Homo sapiens: one gene and its partners. The protein of the gene in region 3 interacts with the protein of the main gene of each other region in a pairwise test. Each region holds a gene or a part of one and is shown on either strand. Other genes may lie near its edges.

What was found. Proteins that work in one complex are often made in the same cells at the same time.
Region 1: the proteins of SGSM2 (region 3) and RAB3B interact in a two-hybrid assay, tested with the Homo sapiens proteins (one study listed by BioGRID).
Region 2: the proteins of SGSM2 (region 3) and RAB9B interact in a two-hybrid assay, tested with the Homo sapiens proteins (one study listed by BioGRID).

The regions. Positions count from the first base shown.
Region 1 is NC_000001.11:51,973,648-51,981,131, reverse strand, and holds part of RAB3B (ras-related protein Rab-3B), read left to right. Parts: intron 1-244; exon of another isoform or gene 245-686; intron 687-3,890; exon of another isoform or gene 3,891-3,919; intron 3,920-4,014; coding exon 4,015-4,242; intron 4,243-7,484. UniProt on the Homo sapiens protein: The small GTPases Rab are key regulators of intracellular membrane trafficking, from the formation of transport vesicles to their fusion with membranes.
Region 2 is NC_000023.11:103,829,205-103,837,198, reverse strand, and holds the start of RAB9B (ras-related protein Rab-9B), read left to right. Parts: upstream 1-4,941; 5' UTR 4,942-5,139; intron 5,140-7,994. UniProt on the Homo sapiens protein: The small GTPases Rab are key regulators of intracellular membrane trafficking, from the formation of transport vesicles to their fusion with membranes.
Region 3 is NC_000017.11:2,375,285-2,381,822, reverse strand, and holds the end of SGSM2 (small G protein signaling modulator 2), read right to left. Parts: intron 6,332-6,538; coding exon 5,948-6,331; intron 5,687-5,947; coding exon 5,562-5,686; intron 5,091-5,561; coding exon 5,008-5,090; intron 4,865-5,007; coding exon 4,755-4,864; intron 3,967-4,754; coding exon 3,870-3,966; intron 2,788-3,869; coding exon 2,620-2,787; intron 2,412-2,619; coding exon of another isoform or gene 2,392-2,411; coding exon 2,303-2,391; 3' UTR 1,559-2,302; coding exon of another isoform or gene 1,527-1,558; 3' UTR 769-1,526; downstream 1-768.

The DNA of each region.
Region 1 (7,484 bases), on a different chromosome or scaffold from region 3:
TTGAGCCCAGGAGATCAAGACTGTAGTGAGCCAAGATAGTGCCATTGCACTCCAGCCTGGGCGACAGAGAGAGACCCTGTCTCAAAATAAAATAAAATAAAATAAAAATAATAATAATTGAGCTACAGCTGGTAAAAAAGGTAATACTTGCAAATAGGATATGCTTGAATTATTTTCCGTAAGTATGTATTACCTTTTAAATTAACAAATAAAACATAGTATTAAAATAGATGGCTTTTTTTTAAAGTACAATTTCCATTTTATTTTTCTCCAGGAAATAGTCCATCTTCAGTCTTTAAGGACTCAGCTCCTTACATGGGCTTTGGTGGGGGTCGTGGGGCAGCACCTACAGGTCTAAATCAGGGTGGGGGTGTTTGGTCCTTGCGGGCTTCATGAGATCGATTCCTGACTACTTTGCTGTGAATTGCACAACTCGCATAGTAATGTAGCTTCACATACTGCTTGGGAAGCACATAGGCATCGAAGATGCTCACTTCAGAAATGTCCCTGACTGCTGTGGCCTCCACTATGTTTCAAATGACGAATTTCTTAATGGCCTTGTCCTTGGGCACACATTGGGCACAGTTCATCCAGTGAATAGGCTGCAAGTGGCTGCAGGCCTTTTTGGCATGACCATTGTTCCTTCTTTTCTTTGTCATCTTGGAGGCATGGACTGGAGAGAGGAGGTTTTTTTTTTTTTTTGGTAGAGACAGTCTTGCTCTGTTGCCCAAGCTGGAGTGCAGTGGCACAATCATGGTTTACTGCAGCTTCAAATTTCTGGGCTCAAATAATACTCCTGCTTCAGCCTCCCAAGCAGCTGGGATTATAGATGTGTGCCACCACGGCTGGCTAATTTTTTACTTTTTGTAGAAATGGGGTCTCCCTATGTTGCCCAGGCTGGTCTTGAACTCCTGGCCTGAAGCCATCCTCCCACTTTGGCCTCCCAAAGTTCTGGGATTACAGGTGTGAGCCACTGCACCTGGCCTTAGGTGGCACTCTTTTGTATGAAAAAATATTGGAGGAAATACAGTAAAATGTTAACAGCCATAGTTTCTGAGTGGGTGGGATGTCAGTTAATTTTTTTTTTGGGGGGGTGGAGTCTCGCTCTGTCGCGTAGGCTGAAGTGCAGTGGCCTGGATCTCAGCTCACTACAAGCTCCGCCTCCCTGGTTCACGCCATTTTCCTGCCTCAGCCTCCTGTAGCTGGGACTACAGGCACCCGCCACCACCCCTGGCCAATTTTTTGTATTTTTAGTAGAGATGGGGTTTCACCGTGTTAGCCAGGATGGTCTCGATCTCCTGACCTCGTGATCTGCCTGCCTCGGCCTCCCAAAGTGCTGGGATTACAGGCGTGAGCCACCGTGCCCAGCCGTCAGTTAATTTTAAATTCTCTTTTTTACACTTTTGCATAATATAATTTTCAAATTTTTTATAATGAATATATTCATAGTAGAAATTTTCTCTTGTGAATAAAGAAAGATGACTTGCAGGCAGCAGAGCGGAGGATGGTGTGAGGTTGTTGTGGTTGCTTCCCTTGTTTTTATGTAGAAAAAGCATAATGTGGCCAGGTGTGGTGGCTCACGCCTGTAATCCTAGCACTTTGGGAGGCTGAGGCAGGTGGATCACCTGAGGTCAGGAGTTCGAGACCAGCCTGGCCAACATGGCAAAACCCCGTCTCTACTAAAAATACAGAAATTAACTAGGCATGGTGGCAGATGCCTGTAATCCCAGCTACTTGGGAGGCTAAGGCAGGAGAATCGCTTGAACTCAGGGGGCAGAGGTTGCAGTGAGCCAAGGCTGCACCACTGCACTCCAGCCTGGGCGAAAAGAGCAAGACTCCATCTCAGAAAAAAAAAAAAAAAAAGCATAATGCCTTTACATGGCAAGTTCTTGCAACAGCCTTTGCACCTAGTACCATGAAAAGCTGAAAAGTTAAGGCTGTGAGACAGTTTAAGCAGCCAATGGCACCCTCCCTTCCAACCTCACTTTCTTCCTCCATGTAAGTGCTATGCCTCAGTCTCCAAGTGTCCTGGGCATGTTCCACACTTGCCTAGTGAGTCTTGTCATGGGGCAGATTGATACAGGGATGGAACTTACAGTCTCAGATAAGGATTGAGAGCTGGGAACAAAGGGAAGGAAGAACAGAGACCACAGGAGTCCAGTGGTGACATATGCAAGGAACTTTTATTAAAAGGCTGCTAACAATCTTACATATTTGTCTAACTTTTCTTCAAGAGAGCTTTAAACCTACATTAATCAGCTCCTTATCCTTACAGCTCATCTGAGAGGCCCAAAGAGCCACACCCACCAGCCTCATGCCCTTTCTTTGCCCTTGGGGAAAAAAACAGGAATTCCTAAAAAGAATGAAAACCCAGACACCATCACACTTGAATGCTGTCCTCCCACCCTCCTCTGACCACTCATCCAGCCATCTGGGTACCCTTGTGCTGAGAAGAAGGGGAGATTTCAGGTGGAGAAGCAGGGTACCTGAGGCTTCCAAGACATAGGAGAAGCAATTAAAGACTTAAATAAGACCATGTGACCAAGTGCTGAATTATGGAGTTCAGATTCGGGTGTTCTAGGAAAGCAGATGGTGACAGAACTGAGAAGGCTGGGGTCTCAGGAAAGGCCTGGCATGTATTAAATATTTGCTGAGTGAATGAGTGAACAAATAAAGGACCTAGGCTTTGAAGGCTTTGGAATAATAAGGACATATGTTCACATCTGTGTGGAATTTACCAGTTGATAATGGTTTCATCCATTGTTATCTCATTTGAGTCCTGTGATAGCCCTGTGAGAAGAGCAGGGTGGAAATTGTTCTCCCCATTTTCCAGATGAGGAGATTGAGCCCCAGAGTGATGAAGTGACTGTGATGAATTCAGCACACATTTCCTGAGTGCTTATTATGTGCTAGGATTCATGCTGGAAGCCAGACATGTAGGAATGAAGTCCATTAAGGCCCAGATGCTCATTCCAACAGTGCTGAAGTGATACAAGGGCTGTTACAGTGTTCTGGGAGCACAGGGAAGCTGGCACTTGATCTGGATCTCCAAGGATGGGTAGGAGTCTTTTAGGAGGAAAAGAGAATTCTAGGCAGAAGGAATACATGTAAGGGACAAAGGCAAGGAATAATGTGGCTTATTTGGCATAAAGTGTGTAATTAGATCTAAGGGAAGCACAGGTTGGTGAAGAGAAGGGGTATGGGAAGATAAAGTTTAGAGAATTGCCTCTTTGGTTAGTTGGTTATTTGTCAAATTGAACAGTTTGGACTTGATCTTTAGAGCTGTGGAAAGCCATGAAAGTTTCTATGTTTTATTTATTTTATTTTTTAGAGATGAGGTCTTGCTCTGCTACCCAGGCTGGCATTCAGTGGCATGATCATGGCTCCCTGCAGCGTCGAACTCCTGGGCTCAAGTGATCCTCCCACCTCAGCCTCCTGAGTCATAATAGTTTTTGAAGCAAGAGAATGATAGCCCTTTACTGAGTCTTTCCTTGGATGTGCATGTGTTTGCTGTTCTTGGCTTTTTTTTTCTTTCCCCAAAATAGCTCAGGAGCTGCTTCCTCCAGGAGCCTCTCCTTGATCACCGGGCCTCCAGGCTGAATGAGATGCTTCTCATGGACTTCCTCAGCCAGGACTCCTCTGTCTTATCACTTATCTACTGCTTTGTTACTCTGTGTTGACCCACCTTTTATTCTAGTTTTTGTCCACCTAGAGGTCAGGCACCATGTCTGACTCATGTTTGTAAGCCCCATGCCCAGCACAGGGCTTGCCCCAGATCAATGTGCTCAGTAAATATTTGCTGAAGGAATGAATGGGAGGAGCTGGGTTCCACCTCAGTGCTGAGACAACATTTGGGGCAGGTGTAGTGATGGGGTGATTCTGAGTAGTGTGCATTTCCTCAGTGGTGCTGGAGTAAGGAGTGAGTGTGTGAATGGTGGGGTGACCATTAGAAGGATGGTGACTCAGGGTGACACCGAAGGTCTGTTCCTGAGTGACTCTAGGTCTCTCTTGCAGATGGCTTCAGTGACAGATGGTAAAACTGGAGTCAAAGATGCCTCTGACCAGAATTTTGACTACATGTTTAAACTGCTTATCATTGGCAACAGCAGTGTTGGCAAGACCTCCTTCCTCTTCCGCTATGCTGATGACACGTTCACCCCAGCCTTCGTTAGCACCGTGGGCATCGACTTCAAGGTGAAGACAGTCTACCGTCACGAGAAGCGGGTGAAACTGCAGATCTGGGTGAGTCCCGGGAATCTTGGGCAGGATTTTCCTGAGAAGCGGCTGGCCTGCCAGTACAAGGGCTTAGAGGTGGGGCCAGCTTGGAACTTCTGGGCCTTACAGCATCAGGCATTAATGCTGTTTCAGGTGTGGCCCCTGGGCTACCCTCTGCTAGTTTTATACAAGTTTGCTCTCCTCCAGGGGTTCAGTTGCTTCTGCTGTTTAACTATCCAGGAGGTTTTATGTTGGCTTGTCTAAATGAGTGACCAAGAAACTGGGGCTTGGAGTTAGAGACTTGGGTTCAAATTCTGCTTCTACCACTTACTAGTCATGGAACTTGACTGAATTGCTTAACTTCTCTGGGGCACCCTTTCTCCTTTGGGGATTGTAATAGCATCTACATCATAAGGCTGTTGGGTCCTTAGGTCCTTGGCTTAGTTCCTGGAACATAGTAAATGCACACTAAATGTTAGCTAAGGTATCAGTTATCTACTGTCGTATAACAAATCACTTCATAAGTTCATAGTGCCAGACTGGGCAACATTGTGAGACCTCATCTCTCAAAAAAATAAAACAAATTAGCTGGGCATGGTGGTGGGCTCCTGTAGTCCCCATTACTTGGGAGGCTGAGGTGGAAGGATTGCTTGAGCCCAGGAGGTCGAGGCTGCAGTGAGCCATGATCATGCCACTGCACTCCAGCCTGTGCAACGGAGCGAGACTCCATCTCAAATAAATAAATAAATAAATAAATAAATAAATTGGTAGTGTCAAACAACAATAATAATTCATTATCTCATAGTTTCTGTGGATCAAACATTTGGGAGTGGTTGGGGCCTCTCATGAGGTGTAGCCAGATGTTGGCTTGGCTTGCAGTCATCTGAAACATACACTGGAGCTGGAGGATCTTTTTTTTTTTTTTAAGACGGAGTCTTGTCCTGTTGCCCAGGTTGGAGTGCAGTGACATGATCTCAGCTCACTGCAACTTCCGCCTCCCGGGTTCAAGCGATTCTCCTGCCTCAGCCTCCCGAGTAGCTGGGACTACAGGTGCCCGCCACCATGCCCAGTTAATTTTTGTATTTTTAGTAGAGATGGTGTTTCACCATGTTGGCCAGGCTGGTCTCGAACTCCTGACCTTGTGATCCGCCCACCTCGGCCTCCCAAAGTGCTGGGATTACAGGTGTGAGCCACCGCGCTTAGCCTGGGGCTGGAGGATCTTAAGACTGCACACTCACATGTCTGGTGCTAGCTGTTGGCAGAAGGCCTTACTTCGTTCCCATTTGGCCTCTTAGAGTGTCTTCACAGAGCTGCTGAAGTGTCTTTATTTGCATAGCAGCTGGCTTTTCCCAGAGTGAGAGATGTAAAAGGCCAGAGGAAGTGGCAATGTCTCTTATGAGTTAGCCTTAGCCTTACAGCGTTCTGTTGGTCACTGATTCAGCATGGGAGGAAACTACACAAAAGTGTGGATATTGGGAGGAAAGTATCACTGGGGACCATCTTGGAAGCTGGCTGCCACAGCTACTATTATTATTAGTATCTGCCAATAGTACTAATAAATTATGCACATATTTTAGATGATATAGCAACATGTAGATCATATAGTTTTCAAAAATGAATTAGTACCTGGATTGGAAATTTTGAAAATTTGTGATTTAAAGTATTTAAAACATGTATTATTATTATTTTATTTTATTTTTTTCGAGACAGAGTCTCACTCTGTCACCTGAGCTGGAGTGCAGTGGCACTATCTTGGCTCACTGCAATTTCCACCTCTTGGGTTCAATCGATTCTGTTGCTTCAGCCCCCCAAGTAGCTTCAATTATAGGCGTGTGCCACCACGCCTGGCTAATTTTTGTATTTTTAGTAAAGATGGGTTTTCACCATGTTCACCAGGCTGATCTTGAACTCCTGACCTCAGGTGATCCACCCGTGTTGGTTTCCCAAAGTGCTGGGATTACAGGCGTGAGCCACCACGCCCAGCCAAAACGTATGTTATTTATTATCTTTCTATTCTGCGTGTTAAATGTACATTAATACATTATGCATATATCTTATTGGGGCAGTCTGTATGTAGTACTTTTCTTTTTACAAATTATTTCCCATATACTATCTCACAATTAACACTATGAAGTAGGTACTACTTTAATACACTCCTGTTTTGCAGGATAAGAAACTCAGAGATTAGTTAACTTGCCTTAGGTCAACAACACTGCTATAAAGTGGGATTTCAACAAGATCTTCTGATTCAAAAGTATGTGCTCTTTTCTCTACACTGTGCATCTGAGGTATTATAGAGTTCATATTTCCCTTCATGATAATGTCAAATATTATATAGGGATAAAAGTTCATTTTGTTCATTTGCTCTCTATTAAAGGCATTGAGGAGTCAGAGATCATTAGAAATAGAAGAAGCTATACGGGTCGTCTAGTTCACTGATTCCCAGACCCATGGCATCAGCATCACCTTGGAATTTGTTAGAAATGCAAATTTTCAGGCCCACCTCAGAACTATTGAGTCAGAAACTCTGGTGGGTGAGTGACAACCATCTGTGCTATAACAAATTTTCCAGGTGGTTTTGTGGCTGGCTAACATTGTAGAACCACTTAGTTTAACTAGCTTGAGGTGAAAGTCAACATGCATTTACTAAAAGCACCTATTAGGTGCCAGGTGCTTTCACTTGTGTTATTTGATATCATCCTTACAGTTCCATGCACAGGGGGATGTGAGAGCACAGAATATTTGGGGCATGGTGAGCAATACAGTAAAACTGGATCAAGGTTGTGAAAGAGCAGAGAGTGGGTGCTGAGAGAAATTTGCTGGAGAGGCTATAGGTGGCAGATTGGGGGTCAAAGAGATCTTCCACAGCAAACAGAAAGTTCTTGTCATCGGTCAGAGGATTCATGCTTGATGATTCCTTAGGGAACTGAAGAAATTATTAGAGCTTACTTTTAATCTTTGAACATAAGATATTTTTTACTGATATTTACTATGTGGATTGACAGAAGTGTCTTTGTTTGACCCCCATATCAGATGGTCAGATAGCCTACACTCAAAAAATCTTGAGATAGGAGGAGGCATTGTGCCCTTCTGAGGGGTTGACAGTGGACTGACTCACTTCTTTGTTTATGTTCAGCCAATTGTGAGCTTTTGTGGTTTTCTTGTGCCTGGGTAAGTGGATTTATTGATTACATGGTCTAGTTTTAACTAAATGAAACCTCATAATGGATATGTGGCTTTTAAAGAGTCCTATAAAGAAACCTCTGATT
Region 2 (7,994 bases), on a different chromosome or scaffold from region 3:
GTTATCTTTTTATCTTTGAGTTGTAAGATTTTTTTAAATATGTTCTAGATAACTTCCTTATCAAGTATATTATTTGCAAATATTTTCCCTTATTCTGTGAGTTGTCTTTTTACATTTCTGATAGTGTTCTTTGAAGCACAAACATTTCTCATTTTCATGAAGTCCAATTTATTTATTTTTTCTTTTGTTGCCCTTGCTTTTGGTGTCATATCTAAGAATCCATTGCCTAACTCAAGACCAGACTTACTACTGCTTTCTTCTAACAATTTTATAGTATAATCCATTTTTAGTTAATTTTGTATGTGCTGTGAGGTGAGGGTCCCACTTCATTCTTCTGCATGTGGCTATCCTGTTATTCCAGCACACTTTGTTGAAAAAATCTATTCTTTCCCCATTAAATGGCCTTGGCAGCTTTGTTGAAAATCAATTGACCATAGACACGTGTGTTTATTTCTGGATTCTCAATTATATTTTACTGATCTACATGTTAGCCTTATGCCAGTACCACACTATTTTGGTAACTGTAGTTTTGTAGTAAGTTTTGAAATTGAAAAGGCTGAGTTCTCTTGCGGGATTGTGTTGGCTATTCTGGGTTCCTTGAGTTTCCATAAGAATATTAGGATCAGCTTGTAAATTTCTACAAAGAAGCCAGCTGGGGTTCTGACAGGAATTGCGTTGAATCTGTAGATCAATTTGAAGAGTATTTCCACCTTATAAATATTGTCTTTCAATCCACAAACATATGATATCTTTCCGTTTATTTAGATCTTTTTTAATTTCTTTCAACAAAGTTTTGTGTTTTTAAGAGTGTTACTTTTGCACTTCTTTTTTTTGCACTTCTTTTTTAAAATTTACTTCTAAATATTTCATTCTCTTTGATGTCATTGTAAATGCATTCTTTTTAACTTTCATTTTTGTATTCTTTCTTAAAATTTATTTGTTGAAGAAACCACGTTTTTTTCTGCAGTTTCTCCCCCCTCAACACACAGACACACACACACACACCTGCACTCTAAACCACACACACACACACCTGCACTCTAAACCTAAGTCTGGATGTTGTTGCTTACATCCCTACAATGTTAACATATTTTTCCTTGTATTTTTCTAAAAATTCATAGTTATATCTAGGAGCTTGATAGGGTTCAAATTGCATTTTTTGACAAAAAATACTTTCTATGTGCTGCTGTGTTTTTCCATCAAGAGGCATATGATATATGGTTAACACTCCTTTTGTAATGTTAGAAGACATTAACTATTATTACCTAGATCCACTAATTCATTAAAGGTTGTAATTTTATCATTCCTTCATAATTTATTAGCTGGGAATCTTTTTAAAACACTTTCCTCGCCAACTCCTTTGTTACACCAAGGAATAATTTGTATTTAAAAAAAGCAGGTTAAATGTTTGAGTCACTCTCTTTATTTACCAGTTTTAAAATAATGAGCTAGCTTTCTAGGTTTGGCCAAATTGAGCAATTATGTTTTTAAGTGTTTTTATGAATTTGTATATTTAAACATATTTGATATATTTCAATTCATTGTAGTTATTATCTTTACTGATGCTCAAATTGCCCCGTGTTTGACTGATGACAGCCTCTTCAAGTCCTTTTGACTCAACTCTAATAATGTTTTTAGCTTCCTTGCTATCTGGTGTGACAAGATATTTTATGTTCATCTTGGATATTTCTTGCCACATATCTGAAGTCAGCCATTTATTTAAGTAATCCTGGGTCCTTTTATTGGGAAATAGCATTTAGAACCATCCTATGGGCACTATAGGTGAATTTGGACACTGAGATTTTCATTGTTTCTAAGTATTTTTAGTGGACAGAGCTTAAAAATTTTTTTTAAATGACTAAACTGAGTTCATACTGATGCCTTCCATAATTGGATAATCTTAAGAGATCTTTCCTTCAGGCTATGAAAAATCTGGCAAAGTATTCCTATTCCATAATATTATCCCTGTGTCAAATGATTTTTTAAAAAAATATTGTATCACCAGAAACTGTGACTTGCTCTTGGACAATGATAGGTAAATAGTTCACAAATTCTTACTAATTTCCTATTTACATATCTATGACTGCCATAATTTCTGAATAAAACATTAGATGATCTCATGAGTATTGTTGTAAAAATTAGGACAATAGGACAAAGTATTTGAAATCAGGACTATCTGGAAAATATAACGTGTATAGTTGCCACATAAATATTCTAGGACAAAGATGACAAATACGTTGGCCTATGAATATGTTCAATATTAATGATTAGGACAGTAGTTGCTAAATTGGGTCCTGAGCTGTTCTAGTCCTGCTAATAGATGTTCCATAAACAAAAGAAATTCATGTTCACAAAAGTTTTGGAAATGTAAGATTGAAAAACAACACAACAGATTTCTTTACTTCAGGACTCCAAGAGACGTTAATGTTTTAATATGCAACGTGACTCTTCTGGAAGGGAAATAGTATGCAGTGTTTATACACTTATTTGAATGCTTCACGGAACCCTCTTGTACATAACAACTTGTGACTGCTGGACCAGGCTGTTCTTTTAAATTAATCACATTACAATTATGTCTTCCTGAAGCTCAGGTCAATGTATTTCAAACTGATCAGGATGAGACTTTGGGAGATCTTGTTCATTGAATGTTGAAGAGCGTATGTGTGTGTGTGTGTGTGTGTGTGTGTGTGACTCTGAAGGTAACCCTATCTCTGGTATCCAAACGCAATCTTGGTTTGGCCTTCTATCTACCGACTACACTATGATTCTATTGTGTGTGTGTGTGTGTGTGTGTAACTGTGTTATAAAAATAGAATTTTTATTGTGTGTGAAGGACACTATTTGACAGATCTCAATGATTGACCATTGGGAATAGTCCCATCTGAGAGCCACAAAACCATCCACAGCTGTTACTTTGAATCTTCGTGCTGTCCATTTTTGCTGATCCCTCACAACTAGTGTTAGTCATGTTGCTTCCATTCTAGAAAGATAATAGTAGCTGCTTTTTAAGTGGCCTCTAGAGACTCTTTTAATATAGGATTTACATGTAGGAATCTTTGGTCTAACAAAGGATTTTTCTTACCTTTAGGTGTTCCAACATTCACTAAACGTGTGGTGCTTTCAGCAGTTGTGAGATCCTGACTACAGAACGAGGTAGCTTAGAAACTAAAAGATCCTTAAAACTTGCCAGTTGGTTTGGGGGTTTCTCAGAGATTTTTAAACTGTTGGAAAATGGCATCTATGAGAAAATGAAAAAGTAGTCTAGATTGTTACACCTAAAGACGAGTTACTCTAATATGAAGGACTGTTATTTAAAGCATTTCACAAAACTATTTATTGAGGTGCAAAAAGAAAACATTGGAACATCAATATATTTATTTTTCTCATTCTTTTAAAATTTCTGTGGAGTATTTTAATGTTTACTCATTAAAATGTATGTTTAAAGTAATGTGTAATGTATACATGTACAGTAGTACATGTATATAATCTATAAATCCTTATACATATGTTGGGGCCCATGCTCAATAGTTTTTTAATAGACTAAAATGTATGCGGAAAATTTGATTTAGAGGATTGTGTGAATCTCGTCTTCATCAGAAGAGTGTTTTAGAGTGTATGTGTGGGGAACGGGGTTGGTTTAAATAGGAGCACATGAGATTCAGTTACATCAATTTATTTTATTTAAATATAACAACTATTAGTGATACAGCATTCATTCATATTCAGCAAATATTTTCTGAGCATGTCCTATGCAGCAAGCATTGCCCTAGGCTCTGTGCATACGGTGGTGAACACAAACGTTGTCCTTGACCTCATAGTCCTTCCCCACTATAGTTTAGTAGGGAAGACAGCTGTCAACCAAATAATCATACACTTAAATGTACCACCAAAAATGGGTAAGTGTTATGAAGGAAAAATACAGCAAGTTACAGGAGGCTACAAGAGTATAAACTGGGGCACCATCTCTATTCTGAGATTATCGAGAAAGGTTATCCTGAGAAGTGACATTTAAGCTGGGGCCTGCGGAGATTGATTGCACGATTGCCTTGTCAAGAGACAGAGGAAGAGTGGCCTAGATGGAAGTAGCGGGTATGTGTGAGGGCCTGGACGGGGTCATGAGATGAGTGAGGGCCTGTGCCACAAGGTCACAGGGTTTCGGGCAATGGGGAAGCTTCAGAGATGGAGCTGCCTGACAGAGAGGTGGAGTGCAGGCTAAATGACCTCAGGAGCTTTGTCCTTCTTCAATTCCAGGGGGAAAATCACAAACTAGTTGGAAGTACCAGAGGGCTACAGAAAACAACAAAAAGAGACTAGCTGGTCGGCTAGGCACAATTAAAACATCAAATTCTGCCCCAGCAGCAATTCCGGGAAATTCAAGTAATGCCCCCTGTGTGGCCCTCTAGAACTGTATCTGGTAAGAGTAAAGGGCAGTGTGTCCTCTATGCCTGCGCTACAGATGTGGACATTTTTTTTAATTGCCTGAAAATTTCATAAGCTGTAGCCAGTTAGAGGGCCTAGCAATGTGTTGTGATCATGTGTTTTCCTGAGTTATTTGAAACAAGAGGGTGTATGTACTACCCTCTTGGCAAAATTAAAGGATTTTGAGCTAGGATAAATGAGGTAGATCAGAGGATAATTGCAGGAAGTGGGGCAGTGGCTAGCCCTGCTTGAGGGCTTAGGCCCAGGCTGCAGAGGAGCTAAGTGGAAGAGCAATATTTGACGGTCTATTGCCGCTGTGCCTACTAATCGGCTAGGGGAGGAGAAGGAGGACAAGGGAGACCAGGGTTGGACGATGAGCATGAAAGAAGAGTGGGCGAGCCAGGGAGCGCTTGCCACATGGAGGGCGGGAGGCGGCTACACCGGGTCCCCACCGCCGAGAAAGGGGCACGAGGAGGCGGCGCGGGCCCCGCCCCCTCCCCTGGCGGGCGCGGGCGCGGGCTCGAGACGCTGCGCGGCGGCAGCGGCGGGCGCGAGCGGCAGCTGTCAGGCCACCGAGGTCCAAGCCGCACTTGCTGCCCCATTGAGGACGAGGAGGCAGCAGGAGCAGTGACGGTGACTCTAAGGAGCCGGATTCCCGGCACGCAGAGCTGACCTGCCTGGCACCCGCGGCCCTCTCCTGTTTCCTTCCCATTGTGTTGGGTAAGGTGCCTGTGCGTGGGCAGGAACAGGGGCTAGGGGCTGGAGGACCCGGAAGGCCGGGAGGTGGGGGGCCTGTGAGAAGAGGGAGAAAGGAAAGTCTAGTTGATCCCCAGGACCACTCGTAGCTTGAGAAAAGGGACTGAGCCGCTCCCGAGGTCGGAGTCGGGGGCAGGTGACAGTGCAGGGGGGCGTTGCTGAGTAATCCCGAGCTGCTGCCAGAGCCGAGCAGAGAGGCGCAGGGCTCCGTGGGGAGCGGGTGTGGCTCAGTGCGCATGCGCCACAGCCGACTAGCTCTAAGAGCTGGGGGTGAGGTGAGAGGACCTGGGTCGGAGGTAGTTGGGACTATGTGTGACATCTCACTTTCTAGGTCCGTAATGCTAACAGTGCCCCTGTCGTAGAGATGCCAGCATTCTTGTCTCCCAAGGAAGCTTTTTTTCCTTGTGTTCAGCTCGCTTGATGTCATCCAAACCTTATCTACCTATCTGTCCCTGGGCAGTCTACTGAGGAAGAAGTGTCCTGGGGACGATGCCAGATTGCTATCTAGTGTGCCTTTGGGCTTATAGCCCTAGAGCTGTCGTTGTGAGCAGTGAAAGGTTAGATGTGGGACTCCACATTGGACCCTTTGAGTTGCATATAGGATATAAATGTGGGCATGAATGTAGGAATAGCGTTTCAGTGGCATGACAGCTGTGGCATTTGGAGTCGGCATGGATGTAGCTGATAACTTGTTAGCTCTGCAAAATGAATCCAGTGCGTCAGAGGGTTTCCGCGCTACGAAGCACCCACCACCAGCACCAACGCCAAGTATTGGGTTGTATTGGAAACACACTCAAACATTCAATCATTTCTCATCCGTGTTGAATTTTACATAAATATAGCCGCGCCCAATTCTTCAGTGCAATATTTCCAATTATTGTGCCAGCATTCAACAGTGAGTTGAGTAGCCCTTACCAGTGTGTCGCCACAAGATGGGCTTTCCCCACAGGTCCAACCATGGCTCCTCCCCTGTACAGACTTCCAACAGTGCCACTCTCATCCAGTGCCTAGCCCTCCCCAGTTGCTCTTCCCCTATCGATCCCTGCAGTACACATCCCTTTCAAGACTTGCCTCCGAGCAATCTGCACTACTGATTTTGAGCATCATTCCACTCCATGGCAACTGAACTGATGCGAATTTGCTTTTCTGCCTCTCTTCTCTCCATCATCATACTAAAATGTACTATTTTCAAAGGTTCAACTTCTTTTTCTTCATTGTACTGCCTCCTCCCCCACCTCCACTCCCACCTCTAAGCATTCCCAACTAAATACAATAATTTGAATAAGGCTTTGTGGGTACTGCAGATTCAGAAGGTTTCAAGTGTGTTAAAGAACAAAGAGCTGGGGAGTATTGGTTATGGAAATTCCTAATTCACCTTACTCTCCAAGACTGAGACCCTGATGGGAAAAAAAAAAGTTAGTAAACTATCCTTAGAGCATGCTCATTAATGAGTTTGTGGGGGTAGGAAAGGGGAATTGCGTCTCTCGAATATTTTACTCAGTTAGAGTCAGATCTTTCTCTGAATGGGATCAAAATCAGAATAAGCGTTTTGGTCCAAATGCTCGCCCGACAGAGGACCCATAAGGGATGCATACGTCATTTGACTTTCCTATTTACGTATTTAGTGTTATCAAAGAATTCATTTGCCTGCTTAATGTTACCTTGTTTAAAGGTTTGGATTAAATCCGGCATATTCTGGGGGAGGAAAAAATGATTTCATTTGCTTTTACACTGTGCTAGTTCTTTTTAATTTAAGTATGTACTAAAGGACATGACATTCATTTTCAAACAATGATAAATGATTGTGGAGAGGCCAGCACCCACCGACAACATCAACTGGATATCATTATTCTGCTCTTGTTTTGGGTAGGAATGGGGAAATGTATATACTTATTTTTAAAATGTGAGAGTAGGGGGAGGAAAACTGGAGCATTTCCCTTGACTTTCAACAGGTGGAATTCCCATTACTCCCCATCCAGAAAATGATCGAGTCAAGTTCATAACTTCTGCTCTTTAGTTACCTTATAAATAATAGTATTTTGGCATCTTACAGAACTATGGATCTATTGTACCTTGGCATCAATTCAGAGGCATTAATTCTGGGCACCTACCTAATCATTTAATTGGTAAACAAATATTTATTATCTCCATGGAGGATCCTGGTGCTGCACACTGAAGGGGCTTCAAAGATGTATACAGTGAGCTTACTATCTAGGAATTTAAAATTGATCATGTAAGAAAGACAGGAAAAGTTTGTTAACAAAATAAGTCAGTATAATGACATTATTTCAACTGTAAACAATGAGATCCTGAGCTTGCATGTTAATTTGTAAACTCCCTGAGGGCAAGACCTTGCCTTAAACATTTATTAATTCCCAACAGTATCTACATCCAATGGATGTTTGAGTGATGAAGCTTTGCAAAGTAGATTGAGTGGGGAGACACCAGAAGCAGGGAGAGAAGAACTTTCACAATAGATTAGATGTGAGAAATTGTGGGCCAAAATGAGGATGGTAGCACAGGACTAGAAAATGATACTTCAAGGGAAAATCAGCAGGATTGAATGAAGGCAAGGAGACAAATCTAAACTGTATTCATTTTTACTTCTAGAAAATAAATGGGAGTTGGAGACAGCAGAGGAGAGTGGAGGGTTTCCTTAGTAAGGACACAACACACAATAGGCACTGTAGTGTTTTCTCAAATATCAGTAGCAAGATTGGACCAGAAGACCCTGAAGGTCCCTTCAATGCTGAGATTCTGTGCCATATGCAGATGTTCAAGCTTGTTGAGGAACAAGGCATTCTCAAATATGGAAGAAA
Region 3 (6,538 bases):
GGCTGCAGTGAGCCATGATCATACCATTGCACTCCATTCTGGGAGAGATAGCAAGACTCTGTGTCTGTCTATCTGTCTGTCTCTCTCTCTGTATAATAAAGCTGGGTTCAGCCTGCTAGGACCATGGGCTGGGGTCTTCAGCTTTGAGTGAGTGGAAAACAGGCCCTAATGTCCAGGAAGCCAGTGTCCTCTAGGGTAGAAGACATGTTGTGTGACTGGTGTCTTCTCCCTGGAGCCATCGACGATGGGACCAGTAGCACTCGGGTTGGGGAAGGGCAGGAAGAGAGGTGCAGACCCGTTACAGCTGGGCCTGTCTATAGCTCAGCAGGGTCTGACTCCTCCTGACACTCCCCTCCGGCCTCTCAGACAGTGCTCGGGGTGAGAGCCACACCCACAGGGGCAGCTCCGTTGCCATCAGCTGCAGTGGCATAGTCAAGCTCCAGCTTCTCATTGCAGCCTGGTCAGTAGGGCAGGCAGGGGGTAGGGATGGGACAGGGACCTTCTCTCATCCACAGGCTAGAGGGGCCACTGGTCATCGTGAGATGGGGCCATGACTCTGGGGTGAGGTCCCCTCAAGGGCGCTGAGTACTTGAGGTTTGGCTATCAAATCACCCTGACTTCCTGACCAGCCCACACCCTCCAGACTGGCGGCTGGAGTACCTCTCTTGGAAACTTTAGTTTTTTGCCGTCCTCGCCTTTTGGGGCTGGCCGACTGTGGAGCTTAAAGAAGGCACGTGGTCTCTCAGTGTCCAGTCCCAGAGGCTCCAGTGTTGACAAATGTTGTTTATTGGTCTGTTACACAGAAGAGTATAGTTTCTGAGGCAAAAATCATACACACTCTGCTCCTCACAAAACCACGGAGTCACTAAGGCAGGCACACAATGGCCACACGTGCTTGGTGGAGGCCAAGGACTCACGGACAACAAGGATGGACAATGGGGTGGTCTGGCCCCCAGACAGGCTGTGCAGTGCCCGGGGGCAGGGCTGGGCTGGGCAGGCTGTGCTGGGTGCAGAAGGGCTGCGGGGCCCTTTGTCATGTTTCTCAAATGCAGAAAGTCTGCCAGACTTTGGTGGCTGCTGGACTAGGCCCCAGCCCCGGGCAGGGCCTCCATGTTCCAGGGCAAGGCCTAGCCTGCATGTGTTGGGGTAGAGGAGGAAGTGGGGATGGCCGAGCAAGCAGCATGCCTAGGCCTGGGGGCAGGAGCTATGCCCTTCCTGGCACCCCCGCATACACAGCTCCTCCAAGGGGGTTTCTGGGTTCCTAGGCCTCTTGGCATCCTGAGAAGCATGTGGAAGGCAGAGCTAGCCTTGCTTCTCACCAGGGACAGATGGGGACACCCATGCATCCCCTGCCTCCCGCAGTCTCAGGGACATGGCAGATGTCTGCGACAGATAATGGGCTGCCCTCGAACTGAGGCCTGTCTCTGAGGGGAGGCTGTGACCGGATTCTTCCCCGACAGAGTCACCCTGGGATTCCTCAGAGCAAGTGCTCCGGTCGCATTCCAGATCATCCACTGGCAAAAGCATCACTTCTTACACGTGGTTTTCAGGGAAGTACCTAATGCAGAACGCAAGGGTGGGGTGGCAGGAGCGAGGCTGTACAGATACACAGAGGTACACTGTACAAGGCCGGGGAGGCCTGGGGGTCACCTCAGGTGGCCAAAGGCAGTGGCAGTGCTGCTGAAGTGGGCTGCTCCCACCCAGGGCCCACATCTTCCGACTGCCCCAGAATCTCGGGGGAGCGGCCTGAAGGCGGCCCGGGTCTCCCGTGCCCGGGTCTCCCGCACCCGTGACGTGTGCCTAAACCAGAAGCAGTTTTGGTTGCTCCAGCTGGGGCTGGTGCACGCACAATATACTGGGACTGCAAAGGGACCCTCAGAAGGGACACAGCACAGAGCCTCTCGCCCTCTGCCACCCCAGCTGAGTAGGGCCCAGGCCGCTATAGCCCCTGTTAATCCTGTGGGGCCCCAGGTTCACTCGTGGGCAGCAGTCCAGGCTGCGGCTGCAGGTGGCAGTGGGGCTACTCCCAGATGTGTGAGAGGGGAGCAGAGTAGGTGTGTCCCCCAAGGCAGCTGCTCCCTGAGGCTGACCCCTCCCATCCCGGCCCTGATCCGAGGGCATCCTGGCCCCTGACTTGCCCTGCAGGGTCAGCACTGCCGGGAGTCGGATCCAGGCTCACAACCGCTTTGTTAGGAACAGAGGTGGGGTCGGTTGGTGGCTGGGGAGGTCTGGGCGGTGACTCCCCTGCACCTCTCCCTGCCGGAGCCCAGGCTCTGCACGGCTGCTGCCTCCTGGCCCCAGCTCACTTGTTCTCTATGAGCATCTGCACCTTGTGGACGAGGTCCCGGGCAATCCGCAGGATCTCCTGGGCATCGTGATGCTCAGCACGTTCTGGGGGGAAACGTGAAGAGCTGTAGAGAGGCCCAGAGAAAGGGCAGCAGGCTAGGAGGTGGCTGACTACCCTGCTCTGTTTCCATCTGCTCTGCTAGATTCTTGACATCCCGGCCTTTGGGGAAGGGCCCCCAGGATTCCTGAGAACCCTCCAGCTGTGTGCGGGGCAGAGGTGGGGGCCTCCACACCTCTGCTCAGGGCAGCCTGGATGGCTGGACCAGCTCGTACCATTGAAAAACTTGATGATGTCAGTGAAGTCCATGTTGTTGTCACGGATGATCTCTCGGTAGGCCTCCACCAGGGCGAGGGCGATGAACAGGACAAAGTGCTCCGATGAGATGTGCCTGGCTGCCCAGATCACCTCCCACACAGCAAACACATCCTCATACAGCAGTTCTGCGGAGAGTAAGCGGCTGCTGCTCACCCGTCCTAGCCGCATATCTGGGGCTGAGGCTGGGATTGAGGCTGAGGCTGGGATTGAGGCTGGGGCTGAGGCTGAGGCTGAGGCTGGGGCTGGGGCTGATGCTGGCCGGACTGGCTGCTCACAGGCCTCTAAATGGAGCCAGGTGAGGGATCAGAGCTTCAGGGGCCAAAGTCGTGGGATTCTCTCCATGACACAGAGCCTGGCTCAGGAATGGGGGTTCTGTACCCCGTACCAAGGCCCCATCCTTTTCTTGGGTAATTTCTGCACACTGGGTTCCTGCAGACTCTGCCTGCACTTCAGCCGGGCAGCTGTCACAGGCCTCCCATCTTGGTGCTCAGGAATGCTTTGGTTTGAAAAAAGTTCCCCAAACTATGATCTATGAGAGTTGTAACTGTCAACCCTAGTGGCACTTCGGAATCACCTATGGAAATTTTGTTTTCTTTTCAATTTTTTCTTTTCTTTTCTTTTTTTTTTTTTGAGACACAGTCTGGCTCTGTTGCCCAGGCTGGAGTGCAGTGGCACAATCTCAGCTCACCATAACCTTGCCTCCACTACAGGCACCCGCCACCATGCCCGGCTGATTTTTGTATTTTTAGTAGAGACGGAGTTTCACCATGTTGGCCAGGCTGGCCTCAAACCCCTGACCTCAAGTGATTTGCTTGCCTTGGCCTCCCAAAGTGCTGGGATTACAGGCATGAGCCACCGCACCCAGCCTCATTTTTTCTTTCTTTTTTAAAAATTAAAGACAGGGTCTCGCTATGTTGCCCAGGCTAGTCTCAAGATCCTGGGTGCAAGCGATCCTCTCACCTTGACTTCCCAAAGTGCTGGGTTTACAGGCGTGAGCCACTGTGTCTGGTCAGCGAGCATTTAAGAACCCATAGGCCCAGGCAGCCACAGTTCATGAGTCTGGGCTGGGTGGGGCCAGGGTTCTGGCAGGTTTTAAAGCTCCCCAGGTGGTTCCAAGGTCCAGTTAGGATTGAGAACTGTTGGCTTGGGGGAAGAGGGATCTCTCACTGTCCCTGACCTCAGCCCCATGATCCAACCCACTTCTTACCTCTCTTAAAATCCAGCAGGAACCAGCGATAACAGAAGTAGAAGTGGGTGTAGTCTCCATTCTGATGCATCAGCTCAAACAGCTCTGAGTCCAGGATCTTATGTGGGTGGGAAAAGGGAGAGAGGCTGAGCCCTGAGCCGATGCTGCCTCTGGCCGCCACTCACCGTCCGCTCACGCCCAGGGATGCAGGCGATCCCCAACCTGGCAGTGGGTCTGTCTGTTGCCCTGTGCTGCGCGGTGCACTCTCTCCCCCTCGGATCTCCTTGTGGAGGGTGGGTTGCTCCTGCTGCCCCTCCCATCACCCATCTCTCTGAGCTGCATTATTTTTAGGGTTATAGGATTTTCTGGGTGTCTGATGTCATCAGCAACCCCTACTGTTCGCCAGAACTTTCATGGGCACGAGCATTCACACACACACACACTCCTCCTCAATTTCTAACGCTGAAACCATGGTTTTTTTTTTTTTTTTTGAGACAGAGTCTCGCTCTGTCACCCAGGCTGGAGTGCAGTGGTGTGATCTCGGCTCACTGCAACCTCCACCTCCCGGGTTCAAGTGATTCTCCTGCCTCAGCCTCCCGAGTAGCTGGGACTACAGGTGTGTGCCACCACGCCCGGCTAATTTTTGTATTTTTAGTAGAGATGGGGTTTCACGATGTTGGCCAGGCTGGTCTCAAACTCCTGACTTCGTGATCCGCCTGCCTCGGCCTCCTAAATTGCTGGGATGACAGGCCTGAGCCACGTTGCCCTGCTGAAACCATGTCTTTTAAAATGAAAGAAGTTAAGTTTCTATGTCAAGTATGTTTGTGGAATGCTCCCTAGCCATGTGGACGATGGACCAGCCCAGCACTGCCTGCTCCCATGCCCATGGGTGGCAACCGGCCTCACCTGGATGAGGGAGCGCATGTTGGCAAAGTGGGTGTCCATGGCACCCCCGTTGGGGAAGTTCTGGCTCATCCTCTTCATGAGGTGGCTGAAGCAGCTGTAGGCCAGCTGATCTGAGGGGAGACAGGAGTGAAGCTGGCAGGGCAGGAGACGCAGGGGACAGAGCCGGCTCCCATTCCCACCCCTCCAGACCTGGCCACCCTCTCGTCCTTTCTCCAGCTTACGCAGCCCAGTCCCATGTCCCGCCATCCCTCACCATTGTCGAGGGTGACCAGGAGAGGCGCCAGCAGATCGCACATGCCCTGCACATAGCCCACGTCCAGGTGCTCCCACACGTAGCTGAAAGGCAGGGGGAGAGTCACTGTGGCTGTGCCCCATTCTTCCCTCCCTCGGGATCCCTGGGAAGACGTCCTCCAGAGCCACCTGCCGCCCAGAAGTCAGCCTTTCCACGACCCTAAGGCATGTACTGTGCACCCCCCACAGGGAGACAACGGGGAACAACCCACGGGTCCCCCCCAAGGCACTCCGACTTAGGGAGAGCCAAGGCCGTCACGCTTGGTATGTGGGGCGGGGGTGCGGGGATGAGGGAAAGCTTCCTGAAGAGGTGTGGCTGAAGTGGAGGTCTGGTAGGCCCCTAAGAATGAAGAGGCGCGGGGGAGGGGTGTGCAGGAAAAAAGCGTTCCAGGCAGGGGGAGCCAAGTGTGATTCAGGAGCAGGAGAGAGGAGCAGGGCACCTTCCGGACCTCATCTTCACAGAGTAACTGGCGGCAGGGTCCCGCCTCCCACCCTGAGCCCCGCCCCACAAGGCACCTGCACATGACGTCTCTGAGCCTCTCGAGGTTGGGGGGCGTGAAGTACCAGTAGTTGCGGTCACACCTCTGCACATCCTTGTCTATGCGGTGCAGGTTTAAGGCCACAGTGTCCAGTAATTCTATCTGGAAGAGTGGAGGGCCCTCAGGCATGAGACCGGGCAGCCCTTCCCAGGCTGGGGGCAGGAGGTGACGCCCCAAGAAATGCAGCAAAACGGAACCCAGAGACCAGAGCGAGTCCTGTGGGGATGCTGAGAAATGGGCTCAGAACTCCCTTCCAGGGCAGTCAGGGCGCCCCGCCTTCCACCCCACCAGCGCTTCCCCAGCTCTGGGATGTCAGGAGGGCCTCTGGGGCGGCTGGGAACAGCCTGGGGAGCATGTACGCACAGTGTAGGCAGCCGCACACACAGCCGCAAGCTCCTCTCCGGCCTCCAGTTCTCCGGCCTGAGGCTTCTCCTGGCTGGGATCCTGGGGCTCCCTCAAAGTGTGAGCTGCAGGGCCGGGCCCACTGGAGCCTTCCTCCCCACCGCCGTCCTCCTCTTCGAAGCCCACGCTCTGCCCCTCATCTAGGCTTGACTGGATGCCCGAGGCCACGGAGTAATTGCGAGAGGAGGGCAGTCCTGAGTCTGGAGAGTCGAACTCCACGGAATGCTGCTGCTCCACCACGGCGGTGCCCGGAGTCCCGGGTCCTGCTTCCTGCTCAGGTTTTGGTCTGGAATCTTCAGGGTCCTGGGGCTCCGGGGGTTCCAGATCATCCACTGAGATAAACACCTGGGGGGTGAACACAGGGCGGCTCCACCTGCACTCCAGCACCTTCCCGCAGCCCACCGCCTCCTCGGGCCAGAAGGGAGCTGGAATGCAAAACTCTTCACACCCCCTCTCCCACCACAGCCTCCAACACTGTGGCCACGGGGCACCAAGCCAGCTTCTGACCCAGCCAGCCAGGCGGAGAGAAACAAGCCTCTGGCCAAACATGAA